Regions from separate parts of the Homo sapiens genome. Here region 1 is linked to region 2. The links come from fine-mapping of genetic effects on gene expression. A gene starts in region 2. The other region holds a variant in brackets. All regions are shown on one strand. Distances are from middle to middle. Region 1 holds the start of LOC124904608 (a long non-coding RNA gene). Region 2 holds the start of MADCAM1-AS1 (MADCAM1 antisense RNA 1).

Region 1 (9,069 bases), 18 kb before region 2:
GGCCAGGGTGGCTGCCGCAGGGTGAGGAGGGGAGAGCAGGAGGAGGGAGGGCGGGGCTGACCCAGCAGGTCGTGAAGGGCCCTGAGGACACGGAGAGGACACAGGGTTTTACCCTGAGCAGGGTGGGAGCCACGGAGGCCTCTGCTGGAGCAGAGGAGGGCACGGCCTGAATTGGGTTTGAAGGAATCGACTGAGGGTAGGAAGGTGGGGGTAGGGAAGCCCGGGGGAGGCGAGCACACCAGCCCAGGTGGGCACCACGGGGCCTGGGCTGGGGGCTGCTGTGGGATGGTCAGGAGTGGGTGGGTTCTGGGCCTGTCTTGAAGGCAGAACTCACAAGATTTTCTGAGACGCTGTGGGGTGAAGGGGAGTGAGAGGAGGGGAGGGTCCTGGAAGGGCGGGTGCAACCTCAACCCAGCGGAGGACCCTGCTGACCTGCTTAGTTGTTTATGGAGGGTCATTGCCGTGCTCTACCACGTAACACACGTACACACACACACACAGGTGCACGTTTACACCACGTGGGTGCGCACGATGAGGCACACACAGGCAGGCGCGCACACACACGCGTGCTCACATAGGAACACGAAGAGGCAGGAGCCGGGCGTGCCCGAGCCCCGTGGCGCCCTGGGCATCCCAAACACCGCCTGCCCAGAACAGGTGCGCAGTGAGTGCCTGCTGAGCCAGTGAGTGGAATGAAGCTCTACAATAGTCCAGATGACAGACATGACTGCTGTGGCTGCTGCCGATCCAAGTCCCACCGTTCTTTTCTCTAGAGACAAGGTCTCACTCCACCATCCAGGCTGGCGCGATCACAGCTCACTGACGGTGGAGAAGGGTGATCAGAGAATGGTGGGAATGAGGCGGCCCTGACCTCCTGGGGTTAGCGATCCTCCCACCTCAGCCCCCTAAAGCACCGGGAGGGCAGGTGTGAGCCACGGTGCCAGCCCCAAGTTCCCGACATTCTTTCCTAAAACACATCCTCCGGCTGCAGATGAGGGTGCGACAGCTGGGAGGCAGCTCCCAGGAGGCCGGGTTCCTCCGATGACCTGCTGTTTCTGTGTCCCTGGCACACGGCACAGCAGGAGAGGGGGAGGCCAGGTGTTTGTGGCTGCTGCCACCGGCCCGTCCAGGGTCAGCTCATGCTCCCAGCCTCCGTGATCTGCCACTCCCCACTTCCCTGAGGCTGCTCACTGCTGTCCTTTGTCCGGCGGCCAGCCCCCTGACTCAGACTCACGCGCCCTGCTGCTGCCCGCCCCTTTGTTCCCGGGAGACTCTAACAAGGAAGGCTTGTTCTTCCCGCAAGGACACAGAGAACCTGCCAGCTCCCCTCCATCCTCATCCAGAGAGAGCCTGCTGTCCCCGTGGGACAGTGAGGACAGGACCAGCTCTCAGGCTCTGCTGGGCACCCAGCCCATGCCTGGCAAGTCCTCATGTTACAGACGAGGACACCGAAGCTCAGAGGAAGGAAGGGCTTGTATTCCGAGGATTTGGGGGGCTGGAGAGGGGTCCTAGTGGGCTCTGCTGTAGCCTGCAAGGTCCTACAAGCCCAGGTCCTTCCTGCCCTCTCTGGCTGCGTTGGTCCCTCCGGACTCAGCCTCTGCACTCACCGTACATTCTGCCTGATACACCCGGTCCAACTCCCTCCCCCTCCAGGAAGGCCTTGCTCAAATCTCTCCACCTCCAGGATCTTCCTTGGACCACTGATTGATTGATTGATTTTTTGTTTCTGTTGTTTTTCTGAGATGGAGTCTTGCTCTATCACCCAGGCTGGAGGGTAGTGGCGCAATCTCGGCTCACTGCAACCTCCGCCTGGTGGGTTCAGGCGATTCTCCTGCCTCAGCCTCCCAAGTAGCTGGGATTACAGGCGCCCGTCACCACACCCAGCTAATTTTTGTCTTTTTTAATAGAGATGGGGCCGGGAGCGGTGGCTCACGCCTGTAATCCCAGCACTTTGGGAGGCTGAGGCGAGCAGATCACGAGATCAGGAGATCGAGACCATCCTGGCTAATACAGTGAAACCCCGTCTCTACTAAAAATACAAAAAATTAGCCAGGCGTGGTGGCAGGCGCCTGTAGTCCCAGCTACACAGGAGGCTGAGGCAGAAGAATGACGTGAACCCGGGAGGCGGAGCTTGTAGTGAGCCGAGATTGTGCCAGTGCACTCCAGCCTGGGCGACAGAGCAAGACTCCATCTCAAAAAAAAGAAGGAAAGAAATAGAGATGGGGTTTCACCATGTTGGCCAGGCTGGTCTCAAACTCCTGACCTCAAGTGATCCGCCCACCTCAGCCTCCCAAAGTGCTGGGATTACAGGTGTGAACCGCCATGCCCGGCCTATCGGGACCACAGATTTGATCCTGCAACCTGCCTATCATCATGCTGCCTGCCCCCTTCCCTGCCTTTTCCTTCTTCCCAGCAGCACTCTCCACGCCTCACCTATTGCAGCGGCGGCTGGAGCTGCTCATGCCAGCTCCTGAGCCCACTGTGAAGTTCGCGGCGATCTGTGAGCTGGTTGGCTCATGTTGGCAGCCACGATGGGAGTATTTACAACACAGGGGGCGGCGTGCGCTGCAAGTGAGGGCCTTTTCCCTTGGAGAGCCAGCTGTTCAACATTTCTCCGCACAGCACCACTTCGGTATTATGCCCGAGGTTTATGGCATAACTAGCCTGGCTCATGGTCTCTCTTCCCTGCTGCTCACTAGAATGTAAGCTCCTTCGGGCCGAGGTCAGCCCACCTTGCACTCTGCTGTCTCCTTGGCACTTAAAACAACGCTTGGCATACAGCAGGCACTCAATAAAGATGTGCTGGCAGGGCGCATGACGTGTGCCTGTGGTCCCAACACTTTGGAAGGCCGAGGCGGGAGGATTGCTTGAGCTCAGGAGGCGGAGGTTGCAGTGAGTGGAGATCGCACCACTGCGCTCCAGCCTGGGCCACAGAGTGAGACCCTGTGTCAAAATAATAACAAGCATGAGGCAGGGGGGATCAGCTGAGGTCAGGAGTTCGAGACCAGCCTGGCCAACATGGTGAAACTCTATTAAGGGAGGAGACCATCCCTCATATTGTCTTATGCCCAATTTCTGCCTCCAAAGAAAGAAGTAAAAACTAAAAGGCAGAAATGAAATCCACAGGCAGACAGCCCGGCGCTGTGCCCTGGGCCTGGTAGTTAAAGAGCGACCCCTGACCTACTGGGTTACGTTATCTATAGATTCCAGACATTGTATGGAAAAGCACTGTGAAAACCCTTGTCCTGTTCTGTTCCGATCTGATTGCCGGTGCATGCAGCCCCCAGTCACGTACCCCCTGCTTGTTCAATCGATCACGACCCTCTCACGCGGACCCCCTGAGAGTTGTGAGCCCTGAAGAGGGACAGGAATTGCTCACTCGGGGAGCTCGGCTCTTGGGACAGGAGTCTTGCCGATGGCCCCGGCCGAATAAACCGCTTCCTTCTCTAACTGGGTGTCTGAGGAGTTTTGTCTGCGGCTCTTCCTGCTACACTATCTCTACTAAAAATACAAAAAAAAAAGGCCGGGCTTGGTGGCTGAAGCCTGTAATCCCAGCTCCTCGGGAGGCTGAGGCGGGCAGATCACGAGGTCAGGAGATCGAGACCATCCTGGCTAACACGGTGAAACCCCGTCTCTACTAAAAATACAAACAATTAGCCGGGCGTGGTGGCAGGCGCCTGTAGTCCCAGCTACTCGGGAGGCTGAGGCAGGAGAATGGCGTGAACCCGGGAGGCGGAGCTTGCGGTGAGCCGAGATGGCGCCACTGCACTCCAGCCTGGGCGACAGAGCGAGACTCCGTCTCAAAAAAATAACAAGTAAATCAGTGTGGAACTAACGAGCGCCCTCGTCCCTCGCGCTGCTGGGACTGACGTCCGGGTACCCCCAACGCAACCACGGCCTCCCGGTGACCCTGACCCGCGAAGCGGGCCGGAAGCCCCGCAGCCCCTACTCCAGAATCCGCGTCCCGGAACCTGGATCCCCGACCGGGCCCTGCGGCCCCGACCCCCGCAGCGAGCCCAGCGCCGGGGAACAGGACCCGGCTTCCCAGTCTCCGCCCGGGGACACCAGGCTCCTTGGGCGAACGGCCAGGCCTCCCGGGACCAGCGCGCTGGAAGACTCGCGGCGGGGACGCCCCCTCGGCCGCCCCGTGCCGGGCCCCACGCAAGGGCAGCCGGGGCGCCCCGCAGTGGGAACGCGAGGAGACCGACCACGGGGCGAGACAGCCGCCAGGGCGTCCGCGCCGCCCGCCCCAAGCCCGCATCAGCCCGCCACGAACTCGGAGGACCGCGGGCTAGAGCGGCCCCGCCAGCGCGCAAAGCCTTGTGGGCCACACGCCCCGGCGCCCCGCGCTCCGCGGCATGGCGGGAGTTGTGGTTCAGCTGCGGGGGCCGCGCGGGAGCTGCCGGGAGCTGTGGGCGGGGTGGGTGCGCGCGCAGTGGCAGGGCCAGTGAGCTGCACCCGCGGAAAAGGAGGGGGAGCGGCTGGTCAGCTGCGCCCTGCGGGTCGAGAATGTCATCAGCAGGGATGGCGGCGCTTTGAGTGCTGAGCGCGGCCCCGACCGGGACCCCCTACCCTTGACCCACCCTCGCAGGCCGAGCCCCGACTCCCGACCCGCCGTCGCAGCCCGCGGCCCCGACCTCTGACCCGCCCTCGCAGCCCGCGGCCCCGACCTCTGACCCGCCCTCCCAGCCAGACCCTCTACGCCCGACCCGCCCTCGCAGCCCATGGCCCATCGGCCCGGCAGTGGACGCAGAGCCTCGGCCCCGTTCCCTCCCCGGACCCCCCGGACCCGCTCTCCGTCCTCCCTGCAGAGCCGAGGGCCTTGGCCCAGCCCCGCATCCTCCCCGACCGTGCTCGATCCAGCCCGGGTGTGCTGCACCCGAAACAGGCTCCCGGGGGCCGTCGGGCCTGTGGGTGACCGTGCAGGCCAGGATCTCCCCCTTCCCAGTCGTGACAACCACAGATGGCCCCAGATGCCACGTTAGGGTTAGTGCCTCCTGGGGGCGGGATTGCGGCCGGGGGAGAACCACCCTCCCAACCCGTTAGGAACTGCAGGGACGGAGAGCGCGCTCGGGATGTCCAGCACTCAGCGCGGGTTGGGTGGCGAATGGAGAGCGAGTCGTCCTCAGAGGCCGCCGGCCTGCAGGCGAGAACCCTCCCAGCCAGGAGGCTGCGGCTCTGCCTGAACCCCGACCCAGGGCGAACACCCACATTTGGCCCCTGCCCGGTGCTGAGAGAGGCCAGAGCGGCGTCCCCAGAAGCGGAGCGGGAGCCCCACGTCCGGCGGCCACGATAGAAAGAAGAAAAGAAATGGGTGGTAGTAAGTAAAATAAATCGTATGAAACATAAAACAAGGCCGGG[C/T]GCGTTGGCTCACGCCTGTAATCCCAGCACTGTGGGAGGCCGAGGCAGGTGGATCACCTGAGGTCAGGAGTTTGAGACCAGCCTGGCCAACATGGCAAAACCTCGTCTCTACTAAAAATACAAAAATTAGCCGGGCGTGGTGGCGCATGCCTGTGGTCCCACCTACTTGGAAGGCCGTCACAGTAGAATCACTTGAACCCGTGAGGTGGAGGTTGCAGTGAGCCGAGATAGCACCACTGTACTCCAGCCTGGGCGACAAGAGTGAAACTCCAGCTAAAAAAAAAAGAAAGAAAGAAACGTAAAACAAAGATGTATCTTTATCTTATTTAATCCACTGTGTCCAAAATACTATCCTTTCGATTCATAAGCAATACATGTTGAGATGCTGTACACTCTTTGTTCACGCTGAGCGTTCAGAGCCCAGTGTGTATTTTGCACATTTGTGTCCACTTCCTAATTCTCACAGGAAATATTCAACCTGCACTTCAGGCCACTAAAGTTCTAGTTGGAAAAGTGGCTTCACAAACCCTAGCTGTTGCACATGTTTTCCAATAGCTGCGTCCGTTTCTAAGTTGATATTCGTGTTAGAAAGGAGGCTTCAGGGCCAGGCGCGGTGGCTGACACCTGTAATCCAGCACTTTGGGAGCCCAAGGTGGGCAGATCACTTGAGGTGGGGAGTTCAAGACCAGCCTGACCAACATGGGGAAACCCCGTCTCTATTAAAAATACAAAAATTGGCCAGGCGCGGTGGCTCACGCCTGTAATCCCAGCACCTTGGGAGGCCAAGGCGGGCGGATCACCTGAGGTCAGGCGTTTGAGACTAGCCTGACCAATATGGTGAAACCCTGTCTCTACTAAAAATGCAAAAGTTAGCTGGGCGTGGTGGCAGGCGCCTGTAGTCCCAGCTACTCCGGAGTCTGAGACAGAATTGCTTAAACCTGGGAGGCAGAGGTTGCAGTGAGCTGAGATCGTGCCACTGCACTCCAGCCTGGGTGACAGAGTGAGGCTTTGTCTCAAAAAAAAAAAAAAAGTCTACAAATACAAAACTTACCTGAGCATGGTGGCACGTGCCTATAATCCCAGCTACTCAGGAGGCTCAGGCGGGAGAATCGCTTGAACCCAGGAGGCGGAGGTTGCAGTGAGCCAAGATCTCACCACTGCACTCCAGCCTGGGCGACAGAGTGACTCCGTCTCAAAAAAAAAGAAGGCTTTTAAAGAAACAGTTTAGTGCCCTTTATGGTGTTTGCGACGTCGTGTAAACACCAGCTCTCTAGTCTCAAACCCGGCGAGGGCGGTTCATAGACAATTTCAGTCTCTCGACGCGACGCCGTGTGGCTTGTGCCCTTCTAGCCACCTAGACCCTCGGGAGAGGCCTGTGCGGCTCCTGGCTGGGCCCCCGTCTTCAAAGCAGCTTTTGAGTGGCCCTTTGACCCGTGAGACAGGGCCGTGGAAGCTGGGGTGAGCCTGGAGATGCCCCCGGGAGCACCAAGGCGTCAGAGCAGCTGACCAGGGCCCCAGGCCTCGCCGCTTCCCCAGGCAGAGCCGGCCCCAAGCCCCGCCTCTCCCCTGGGCGGAGCCAGCCCCAAGCCCCCCTCCCCTGGGCGGAGACAGCCCCAGGCCCCGCCTCTCCCCTGGGCGGAGCCAGCCCCAAGCCCCCCCTCCCCTGGGAGGAGACAGCCCCAGGCACCGCCTCTCTCCTGGGCGGAGCCAGCCCCAAGCCCCCCCCTCCCCTGGGCGGAGACAGCCCCAGGCACCGCCTCTCCCCTGGGCGGAGCCAGCCCCAAGCCCCCCCTCCCCTGGGAGGAGACAGCCCCAGGCACCGCCTCTCCCCTGGGCGGAGCCAGCCCCAAGCCCCCCCTCCCCTGGGAGGAGACAGCCCCAGGCACCGCCTCTCTCCTGGGCGGAGCCAGCCCCAAGCCCCCCCCTCCCCTGGGCGGAGACAGCCCCAGGCACCGCCTCTCCCCTGGGCGGAGCCAGCCCCAAGCCCCCCCTCCCCTGGGAGGAGACAGCCCCAGGCACCGCCTCTCCCCTGGGCGGAGCCAGCCCCAAGCCCCGCCTCTCCTCTGGGCGGAGCCAGCCCCAAGCCCCCCTCCCCTGGGCGGAGCCAGCCCCAGGCCCCGCCTCTCCCTGGGCGGAGCCAGCCCCAAGCCCCCCCTCCCCTGGGCGGAGCCAGCCCCAAGCCGGCTCTCACCATAGTGTGCCTCCTGCCCCATGGACCCCCATCCCCCCAGACCCCTCCTGATTAGCTCAGGTGGGGCTGCCGTGGAGACCACACCAGCATCATCGCCTGAGGCTCCATGTCCAATTTCCCCGGGGCTGCTGGAGACTGAGCACTGCCCCAGCCCCTCACCAGGCGGTCACTGACCCCAGGGAGGCCTGTCAGCTCTGCCCAGGCTCAGCGACGTGGTCAGCTCGGCCAGCCTGCGGGGAGGGACTCGACTCGGACAAGGGTTCCTTCAGGGACCTGTGCCAGGTGGGCCACGAAGATCCTTCCTTCCTCCTTTTTTTTTTTTTTTTTTTTTTTTTTTGAGACAGTCTTGCTCTGTCGCCCAGGCTGGAGTGCAATGGTGCGATCTCGGCTCACTGCAAGCTCCGCCTCTCCGGGTTCACGCCATTCTCCTGCCTCAGCCTCCTGAGTAGCTGGAACTACAGGCGCCCGCCACCACGCCCGGCTAATTTTTTTCGTATTTTTAGTAGAGACGGGGTTTCACCGTGTTAGCCAGGATGGTCTCGATCTCCTGACCTCGTGATCCGCCCGCCTCGGCCTCCCAAAGTGCTCGGATTACAGGCGCCCGCCACCACGCCTGGCTAATCTTTTTTGTATTTTTAGTAGAGACGGGGTTTCACCGTGTTAGCCAGGATGGTCTCCATCTCCTGACCTCGTGATCCACCCGCCTGGGCCTCCCAAAGTGCTGGGATTACAGGCGTGAGCCACCGCGCCCGGTCGATCCTTCCTCCTTAAACCTGATGCGGGAGCCAGGCCCACCCCCATCGTGGGCTTCATGGCTACAACTCCACACGTACACACGCACACACGCATGCACGCACACAGACGCATGCACACACACACATGCATGCACATGGCTACTTATTGAACCCCCTCCTGCAGCCTCCATCAATCTCATTCCTCCCCCACTCTCCTTGCGACCCTCAGGTCTGGGGTCCTTGGACTGGGTTCAAGCCTTGTCCAACAAGGAGGCCCTGCCGTGATGGGGGTCCTCACTCCAAAGAAAAAGCCATGAGGACCCCAGAACTGACCAGTGGGTGGGAGACAGGAGAGCTGGCCCAGCTGGGTCAAGAAGGGTCTGTCAGGGCCTGGGGCGTGCTCCGCTCCTGGACAACGGCGCCCTCACAGCCCCTTCCCCTCAGGGCAACACAGTCATCTGGAACGCTCCCTCGGCAGCTGTGGACAGGGAGGCCAGGATGTGGGGTCTGGGGCTGGTGGGATGGCTGGGACCCTCCATGGGAAGGGGGGCTTCCTGGCTGGGACCCTCCATGGGAAGGGGGCTTCCTGACGGAGGCCGCCGAGGACAATGCCGGGAAGGGGATTGATGTTGGGGGCGGGGTCGAGTCTCCCAAGGACAAAAAGGAGGTCCCCGTTGCCGGCGGAAGATACGGTGTAGGCCTTCCTGTGGGACTAGGACTCAGACCCAGGGGTCTCAGGGTCCTCCCCGGCCCTCAGGCTGCTGGCCCACCTCGGTCTCTCCA
Region 2 (8,871 bases):
TGGCTGGAGCAGGATATCACACTCTTAAACTGATACCCAGTTTGCTAACAACCTAAAACTTTCCTAAGTAGGTAAGCGCAAAGGAGGACAAACAAGGAGAGGAAGTTGCTTACGAAAGATTTGAGGAAGCAGTAACATTTCCAAATAAGGAAGGGGCATAAGCTATGAGCTAAGACTTCCCTGGGACTCTCCAGATATGCCTGGGTAAGCCCAAGCAACTAACTGGGCTAAAGTGTAAGAACTAATAGCTGATAGGAGGCTTTAGAGTAAGAAGCTATTATTTCTAGTGTCTATGTCTATTATTTTATTTGTAAATCAAGACGAGCTTTGAAGAGGAACTTTTCTACTTCCTACAGGTAATTTCAAATTTAAAAGTAAAGGCAAGGCATGAACCCGGGAGGTAGAGCTTGCAGTGAGCCGAGATCGCGCCACTGCACTCCAGCCTGGGGCACAGAGCGAGACTCCATCTCAAAAAAAAAAATGGGCCGGGCACGGTGGCTTATGCCTGTAATCCCTGCACTTTGGGAGGCCAAGGCGGGCGGATCACGAGGTCAGGAGATCGAGACCATCCTGGCTAACACGGTGAAACCCCGTCTCCACTAAAAATACAAAAAATTAGCCGGGCGTGGCAGCGGGCGCCTGTAGTCCCAGCTACTCGGGAGGCTGAGGCAGGAGAATGGCGTGAACCTGGGAGGCGGAGCCTGCAGTGAGCCGAGATCGCGCCACTGCACTCCAACCTGGGAGACAGCAAGACTCCGTCTCAAAAAAAAAAAAAAAATTAAAAGTAAAAATAATGTGGTCGGGCCAAGCATGGTAGCTCATGCCTGTAATGCCAGCACTTTGGGAGGCCGAGGCAGGAGGATCACTTGAGCCCAGGAGGTTGAGGCTGCAGTGAGCTGAGATCACACCTGGGTGACAGAGCAAGACTCAGTCTCAAAAAAAAAAGTGTTGGCCAGACACGGTGGCTCATGCCTATAATCCTAGCACTTTGGGAGGCCAAGGAGGAGGATCACCTGAGGTCAGGAGTTCGAGACCAGCCTGGCCAACATGGTGAAACCTCATCTCTACTAAAAATACAAAAATTAGCCAGGTGTGGTGGCATGTGCCTGTAATCCCAGCTGAGGATTACTCGGGAGGCTGAAGCAGGAGAATCACTTGAACCCGGGAGGCGGAAGTGGCAGTGAGCTAAGATCACGCCATTGCACTCCAGCCTGGGGGACAGAGCAAGATTCCATTTCGAAAAAAAAAAAAAAGTGTGGTCATACATTTCGCAGAGCCCAATATATCCCAAGCATTATCATTTCAACAGGTAATCAATATAAAATAGTATGAAGGAGATATATTACATTCCTCCCTTTTCCCCAGACTAAGTCTTCAAAGTGCAGATTGTAGGCTCAGCACCCTTCATGGTGGTGAGCCGTCCTCTCTCCGGTCTGCCCTTTTTTTTTTTTTTTTTTTTTTTTGAGAGACAGAGTCTCATTCTGTCACCCAGGCTGGAGTGCAGTGGTGCGATCTCAGCTTACTGCAACCTCCACCTCCCGGGTTCAAGTGATTCTCCTGCCTCAGCCTCCCAAGTAGCTGGGATTACAGGCGCCTGCCACCATGTCCAGCTAACTTTGTATTTTTAGTAGGCACAGGGTTTCACCATGGTCAGGCTGGTCTCGAACTCCTGACCTCGTGATCCACCCGCTTTGGCCTCCCGAAGTGCTGGGATTTCAGGCGTGAGCCACCCCGCCTGGCCTGGACTGCCCATTTCTAAACTCTAAGGTGCTATGCGCATTTCAAAAGGGTCATGGTAAAGTCCTTTGTGAAATTTCAGGGAACGTGGTAACTTTGGAAGCACGTGTAGCCTCTGAGGGGCTCCTCCCTTCCCAAGCCTGCAGAGGCCTGGAGGGCTCTGACCGGGGTCTCCTGCACTCTCTCCCCAGCGTCCAAACCTGCGGGTGACCAGCTGCCCGCGGCTCTGTGGACCAGCAGTGCGGTGCTGGGACTGCTGCTCCTGGCCTTGCCCACCTATCACCTCTGGAAACGCTGCCGGCACCTGGCTGAGGACGACACCCACCCACCAGCTTCTCTGAGGCTTCTGCCCCAGGTGTCGGCCTGGGCTGGGTTAAGGGGGACCGGCCAGGTCGGGATCAGCCCCTCCTGAGTGGCCAGCCTTTCCCCCTGTGAAAGCAAAATAGCTTGGACCCCTTCAAGTTGAGAACTGGTCAGGGCAAACCTGCCTCCCATTCTACTCAAAGTCATCCCTCTGTTCACAGAGATGGATGCATGTTCTGATTGCCTCTTTGGAGAAGCTCATCAGAAACTCAAAAGAAGGCCACTGTTTGTCTCACCTACCCATGACCTGAAGCCCCTCCCTGAGTGGTCCCCACCTTTCTGGACGGAACCACGTACTTTTTACATACATTGATTCATGTCTCACGTCTCCCTAAAAATGCGTAAGACCAAGCTGTGCCCTGACCACCCTGGGCCCCTGTCGTCAGGACCTCCTGAGGCTTTGGCAAATAAACCTCCTAAAATGATACAAACGTGTCAGTTTTCTCAGTTGACACCCACTCCGTGGAGAGGAGAGGTCTGAGGGCTCCGGACAGCAGAGGGTTGACTGTGGGTCCTGCCCTGATGGCTCCATCTCCCTCATCCCACAGTCCGGGGCTGGAGAAGAAAGTGTTAGAAATGCTTGTTCCCCGGTGCCGTAAAGAAATAGCACTTGAATATAAATGTCATTTCCTCAGCAAGGCCACTGTTTTACTTTCTGCAGAAAGGGTACACTGGCCAGCAGTTTTGCCACGAGAGTATCCAGAACAAAGGAGACAGGGTCATTTATAACCTGACGCGTCCACCCTACTGCTCTGTCCGGTTTCCATTGGCTGGAACGGGACGGTTTCCATTGGCTGGAACGGGACCTCACATTCTGTATTTATCCCGATCGGCTAGCAGCTTGGAACTTTTAAAAAGAGGCAAAGGCAGAGGAGAACAAAGGAAGGAAGAAGTAGCTTGTGGAATGCTAAGAAAGGTAAAAACACCTTCAAATAAGGAAGAGGAACAGGTTATGACCTAATGCTTGCTTGGACCAGTATAAGCATGCCAGGGCAGATATTTAGCCTACATTGTGGGCACTAAGAACATAAAGTATGTTGATTTCCTTATTACATTATATATATTCAATATAACATTAACAATTAATTAACAAAGAATGTTAGCACAGGTCTTTTGTTTGTTTGTTTTTTGAGACAGAGTCTCGCTCTGTCGCCCAGGCTGGAGTGCAGTGGCGCGATCTCGGCTCACTTGCAAGCTCCGCCTCCCGGGTTCACGCCATTCTCCTGCCTCAGCCTCCCGAGTAGCTGGGACTACAGGCGCCCGCCACCACGCCTGGCTAATTTTTTGTATTTTTAGTAGAGACGGGGTTTCACCGTGTTAGCCGGGATGGTCTCGATCTCCTGACCTCGTGATCCGCCCGCCTCGGCCTCCCAAAGTGCTGGGATGACAGGCGTGAGCCACCGCGCCCGGCCTACCACAGGCCTTTGAATACATTTTGCTTCTAAGAGAAGTTACTATTTATTCCTAATTAGATGGGGAGGAAAGTCTCATTTGAAGAGGAACCTCTACTTCACGTTTTACAAAGGGCATTTGGTCTGCCCGCCAGAGATTCCTGTGCTGGGAGGATGGTGGAACGGTCCCCCGGCAAACAGCTCTCATTGCCCCCTGCCCGGGGCAACGCCCCTGAGGGACGGGGACGGCACCCAGCAAGCTCTGCCCGGGGCGGGGAAACGCGAGGGCTTAGTGGTTTCCTCGGTGAGAAGCTTAACCAGGAGTCCCCGAAAGCAGTGAGGGAAGATCCACAGAGGTCGCCTGGGGAAACACACCCAGAGGCGGCTTATGGAGGAGACTGCTTGTGTTTTGAGGTGGCTGCGGGCTGCGGAGGGTTGGGAGGGCCGGGAGGGCGGCCGGAAGCGAGGTCAGGCGATGAAGGCCTGGAGGTGCCAGCCCGGGGGCCCTGGAGAGCCATGGCAGAGTTTACAGCTCTGGAGGCTGCGGTGTCAGAAAGCTCCCTCTGGCGGTCAGGGGGTAACAGCGCGGGATGCTCGCCCGTGTGGCCGCCAATAGGGGCTCAGCGCAGCTGCAGCGGAGCTGGGGAGGGGGCTTCTCCCACGAGGTGAGCTACGCACTCAGACGTTGACTGAGTTAGGCGGAAGGCCAGGCTGAGCTCGACCCCCAGCACCAAGGCTCAGAGATGAACATGAGAAAAGGGTCTGGGGGCCGGGCGCGGGGCTGGGTCCAGCAGTCCTGGGCAGGTCCAGCCCCGCGCATGCTCCGTCAGGCTTCTCTGCTAACCAGGGAGACTGGTTGCTAGGAGACCATGCTAATGAAGGACTCGCTCACTACCCAAATGGCAAGCAATCCGGCTTTGTGCCAGAAACGAAGCACTTCCGAGGCAGCCATTTTGGAGTCTGGCAAAATTCAGGACCGAGGCCAAAGCCAGGAGAGCCAATCAATATACACAAAGAGGGAGGAGAAGAGAGAGTGCCAATAAGGACACAAGGAAAGTGGTAGCGTACCCTTGTCACTTCCCAAAGTCTCCCAGCGGGATACCGGTGCCCTCTGCCCTTAATCAAGATGGCCGCCTTGGGGGGGCTCTAGCGCACAGTGGAATATGGCGGTGCTTCCGGTCCCGCTGCCCTCAGCGAAGATGGCGGCAGTGGAGAAGCGGCGGCAAGCGGTACCACCGCCGGCCGGTTTCACGGACAGCGGCCGCCAGTCGGTATCCCGGGCGGCGGGGGCGGCCGAGAGCGAGGAGGACTTCCTGCGGCAGGTCGGCGTGACGGAAATGCTACGTGCGGCCCTGCTGAAGGTGCTGGAGGCGCGGCCCGAGGAGCCGATCGCCTTCCTGGCTCACTACTTCGAGAACATGGGCCTGCGCTCGCCTGTAAACGGCGGCGCCGGGGAGCCCCCGGGCCAGCTCCTGCTGCAGCAGCAGCGCCTGGGCCGCGCGCTATGGCACCTTCGCCTGGCCCACCACTCCCAGAGGTGCGCAGTGGGCCGGCTTGGGCGGGTGGGGCAGCGATGGACTTCAACTCCCAGCATGCCGCGCGCGGCTCCCTACCCGCAGCGCCGGCGCAGGGGCCCGGGGCTTGCTGGGAGTTGTAGTGCGCGATGCCTTCTTGGGTGGGATGGATCGGACAAGGTGGGCTGGAGGGTCCGGGCTTCGGTCCGGCGCTAGGCAGCGCGCTGCATGCGGCGCGAGTCCTTCTGGCCGGCTTCGCCTTCTGTGATGCCTTTTTGCAGGTGCTGAGTTTCCCCTTGCAGTTCATGATTTTCAAAATCGTGCAGCTCAAGAGGACTTGGCCCGAGGTCGCAGAGCCAGCCCCCGAGCCAGGTCCTCCTAGTCGCCTCCTTAGCAGCCTCATGTTATCCCCGTCCATTCAGCCAGAACGTGAATATTTACAGAGAGCAGCGCAGTCACCCAGGGCCCCCATCTTAGGGGACAGGCTCCCAGCGGGCAGGTGGGGATTCCTGGAAGAGCCTGGCGATGTGCGGGCGGGTTGCAGGGAAGAGGCCCAGCAGGTGCAAATTTAGACCCCGAGTGTGGGGCACACGGGAGGCGGGAAAGCCACGGAATTTGGCTGAAGCATGCGAGGCTGCAGGTGCCTACGCGCGGTGTCCCCTGGCTGGGGCCAGTTCTGAGCCCAGGGAAGGTGGTTGGGGACTATCTGTTGGCGTTGGGGATGGATGGGCTGATGTCTTTTGTTGGGGGGGGGGTCCCCAGAAGCGGAGCCTGAGGTAGGCATTGTGTGTGCAGGTGATTTTACAAGGGGGTGCGCCCAAGAGAACCCAGGAAGGGGGTGGGAAGAGCAGGCAGGGAAGGATGCCAAGCAAAGGTGCCCTTTCAGCCTCATAACCAGGGCATAAGCGCCCACCATGGCAGCCCTCGCCAGAGTCCCAGAGAAGTTCGGGGGGAGAAGAGAGATGGGGAGTGTCCCCCCTACCACGTTCAGGGTGCACAGGTGTCCAAGATCATACTCAGATAAGGGTGGCAGGGTGTTGGGTACCTGGACAAGGAGCAGACTTGCTCCGGTGGCCCAGTGGCTCTGAAGGCCCCGCCCGATGATTTGCTGGAGCCAGGTGGGAGGGGAGCGGGCAAGGGCAGGCCCAGAGGGTCAGTGGAGCCGTTTACTGCGATGGAAGGCCCCTGGTTTGAAGAAGCTGCCAGAGCCACTTGCGGATTAAGTTGGAGGCTGGGAGGAGCCTGGAGACAGGAAGGTAGAAAGAAGCGTCTGCAACTGACGTGGGGCCAGGACAGAAGACTGAACTGGAGGGGTCCTGAAGTCTTCAGGAGAGATGAGAAGAGCTCAGGACCCCACTCTGAGGGCACCTAGCCCAGAGAGCCCACCAGAGAGGGTGAGAACGTGAGACCAGAGGTGAACGGGGAGCAGGAGGAAGATGGCCTCCCAGGACATCCGGAAGAGAATCTCCCAAGGAGGAAAAGGGGTCAACAGCAGGCCCACCACGTATGGTTGTTCAGGTTGAGCACTGCACAAGCCACTCACCCCGTAGACACTGCAGATGAGGATATTTATATTTATATTAATTTCCGAGGGCTGCTGGAACAAATTACCTCCAACTTAGTGGCTTAAAACAACAGAAATTTATTCTCTCACAGTTCTGGAGGGCAGAAGTCTGAAATCGGAGTGTCAGGAGGACCACACTCCCTCTGGAGGCTCCAGGGAAGGAGCCTTCCTTGCCTCCCCAGCCTCCAGTGGCGGCCAGCAGTCTTTGGCTTGTGGCCACATTGCTGCAGTCTCTGCCTCCGTCGTCACGTGGCCTCCTGTGTGTCTCTGTTCTGTGTTCCCTCATAAGGACACCACTAGGCCCCACCCTACTCCAGTGTGACCTCAACCGCCTACATCTGCAAAGCTGCTGTCTCAAATAAGCTCTCAGTCTGAGGTTCTGGATGGGCGTGAGTTTGGTGGGCACCAGTCACCCCAGGACAGGAGTGGAGCCATTGGCTGGAAGAGTTCTCATAGCAGGGACTCAGGGCAAGGGTGGTGCTGGTGGCAGATGCATCCCGGCCCTGGGCTCGCCTGGGCTCCCCAGAGACACAGCCAGTGGGGAATGCAGAAGACAGGTGCACAGACCTGCGTGGCATCTGATTCTGTGCTCATGGAGCCAGGCCTGCTCCCGTCCTCCCAGCAGGCAGCTCCGGCCGCCCCTCCATCCTTGGACCGTCAGGAACCCCTGAGGTCACCTGACCAGTCAGGAAGAGAAGCCCAGAGCAGCCGGGCGCGGTGGCTCACGCCTGTCATCCCAGCACTTTGGGAGGCCGAGGCGGGCGGATCACAAGGTCAGGAGATCGAGACCATCCTGGCTAACACGGTGAAACCCCGTCTCTACTAAAAATACAAAAAATTAGCCGGGTGTGGTGGCGGGCGCCTGTAGTCCCAGCTACTCGGGAGGCTGAGGCAGGAGAATGGCATGAACCCAGGAGGCGGAGCTTGCATTGAGCCGAGATCGCGCCACTGCACTCCAGCCTGGGCGACAGAGCGAGACTCTGTCTCAAAAAAAAAAAAAGAGAAGCTCAGAGCCTGGCAGATTTGTCCCCACTCAGTCCAGTGTGTTGACCCCCAAAGGCTGAGGGGCTGACTGGGGCTGCTCCTGAGAGCATCACCGTGGTAGGCTGGGGGAGAAGTCACCCCAGATCCTCCCTGGCACCTTCTTTTGAGAAATGGCAAGCTCCGGCCGCCAGGGCTGGTGATGGCAGCCACAGTGTCCCCCTCCTGCCACCTTCCTGGTCGTCTCCAAGGCCCCCTGGAGCACACACACAGACGTTACATGACTTGCTGAAGGCCACACGGCCACCGAGGGCAGAGCTGGGGTCAGAGAGCCCCAGAGTGCAGCCCCGGAGGCCTCCTCAGCCACCACGTTGCTCATCCTGGCAGCAAGGGCTGCACTGCCCCCTGCAGGTCACTGCCAGGAAAACGTGCACGAAAACGAAGCCCCAGCTGATCTGGGCCAGGGTTCCCCCGACTCGTCCTCTGGGGGCCGTCCTGGGTACTGCAGGGCCCTGAGCAGCGTCCCTGGCCTCCACCCACTCCTTGCCAGGAGCTCCCCGAGTCGTGACAACCACAGATGTCCCAGACACCGCCCGGCGTCTGCTGGGGGCAGGAGTGGGAAGCAGAAGTCTAAGGTGTAGGGTGGCTCCTGTCTCTTTCTGGAGACGTTCCATAAATAGAATCTTTCCTGTATTAACAAATGCTCACACGCCTTACAAACCGCTCTGTGTAGGAGCCGACACAGACGGAGCCCTGGCTGGGCTCCCGCTTTCCATTTTGCAATCAGGGAAACCAAGGCCCAGAGGCCACCGTCACAGGCAGAGCTGACGTTCCAGCCCCGGCCTCCTCCTCCGAGCCCAGAGCTTGCTGCCTTCCTCTTCCTCCTCCTCCCTCACCCGATGATTCTGCTGGGAGCCGCCCGGGAGCCCAGGAGGGGCGGGTATGCGGCCGCCTTGAAGTGGGCTGTCACCTTCCTGTCTCCTGCCGTCATCATGGCTGTGATCTCACCAGGCTGTAATTACCTCTTTGTGTGTCTTCCTGCCCCTCAAGGCAGCTGTGGCTGAGCTGCAGCCCTAATTACAGCCCAAAATAAGCAGGTGGGGCCTCCCACACGTATGCCAGCTGCTGTCCTGAGCACCTGGCTCCAGCCCCGTTCTCCCGTCCTCACAAGAACCCCCACTCCGTAGATGCACAAGGCCAGGTGCAGAAAAGGAGAGTGCACACAGCTGGGAGGGGCAGACGAACACCCGAGGCAGGCCTGGGCCAGGCACAGAGCCCTGCACACCGAGGGGCCGCGTGGATGCTTGCGGAGCTGGACCAG

The links. PIP is the estimated chance that this variant, and not a neighbour inherited with it, causes the effect.
Region 1: its variant is fine-mapped to the expression of MADCAM1-AS1 in nucleus accumbens (GTEx, PIP 0.99).

Annotation. Positions count from the first base shown.
Region 1 is chr19:484,720-493,788 of GRCh38, forward strand. It overlaps LOC124904608 (a long non-coding RNA gene), which reads left to right and starts at 4,447. Exons shown (of 2, transcript XR_007067072.1): 1 at 4,447-4,986; 2 at 5,147-5,351. It also overlaps a transcript of CIMAP1D not described here. RefSeq lists enhancers at 934-1,452, 4,758-5,259 and silencers at 4,087-4,716, 4,787-4,836. The variant C/T (reference allele first, on the strand shown) is at 5,362.
Region 2 is chr19:502,817-511,687 of GRCh38, forward strand. It overlaps MADCAM1-AS1 (MADCAM1 antisense RNA 1), which reads right to left and starts at 5,073. Exons shown (of 3, transcript XR_936221.4): 1 at 4,560-5,073. MADCAM1 (mucosal vascular addressin cell adhesion molecule 1) reads left to right here. Exons shown (of 5, transcript NM_130760.3): 5 at 1,929-2,527. The coding sequence ends at 2,149. TPGS1 (tubulin polyglutamylase complex subunit 1) reads left to right here and starts at 4,681. Exons shown (of 2, transcript NM_033513.3): 1 at 4,681-5,028. The coding sequence starts at 4,691. RefSeq lists enhancers at 3,757-4,614, 4,487-4,826, 7,664-7,963, 8,262-8,871 and silencers at 3,827-3,956, 7,813-8,107.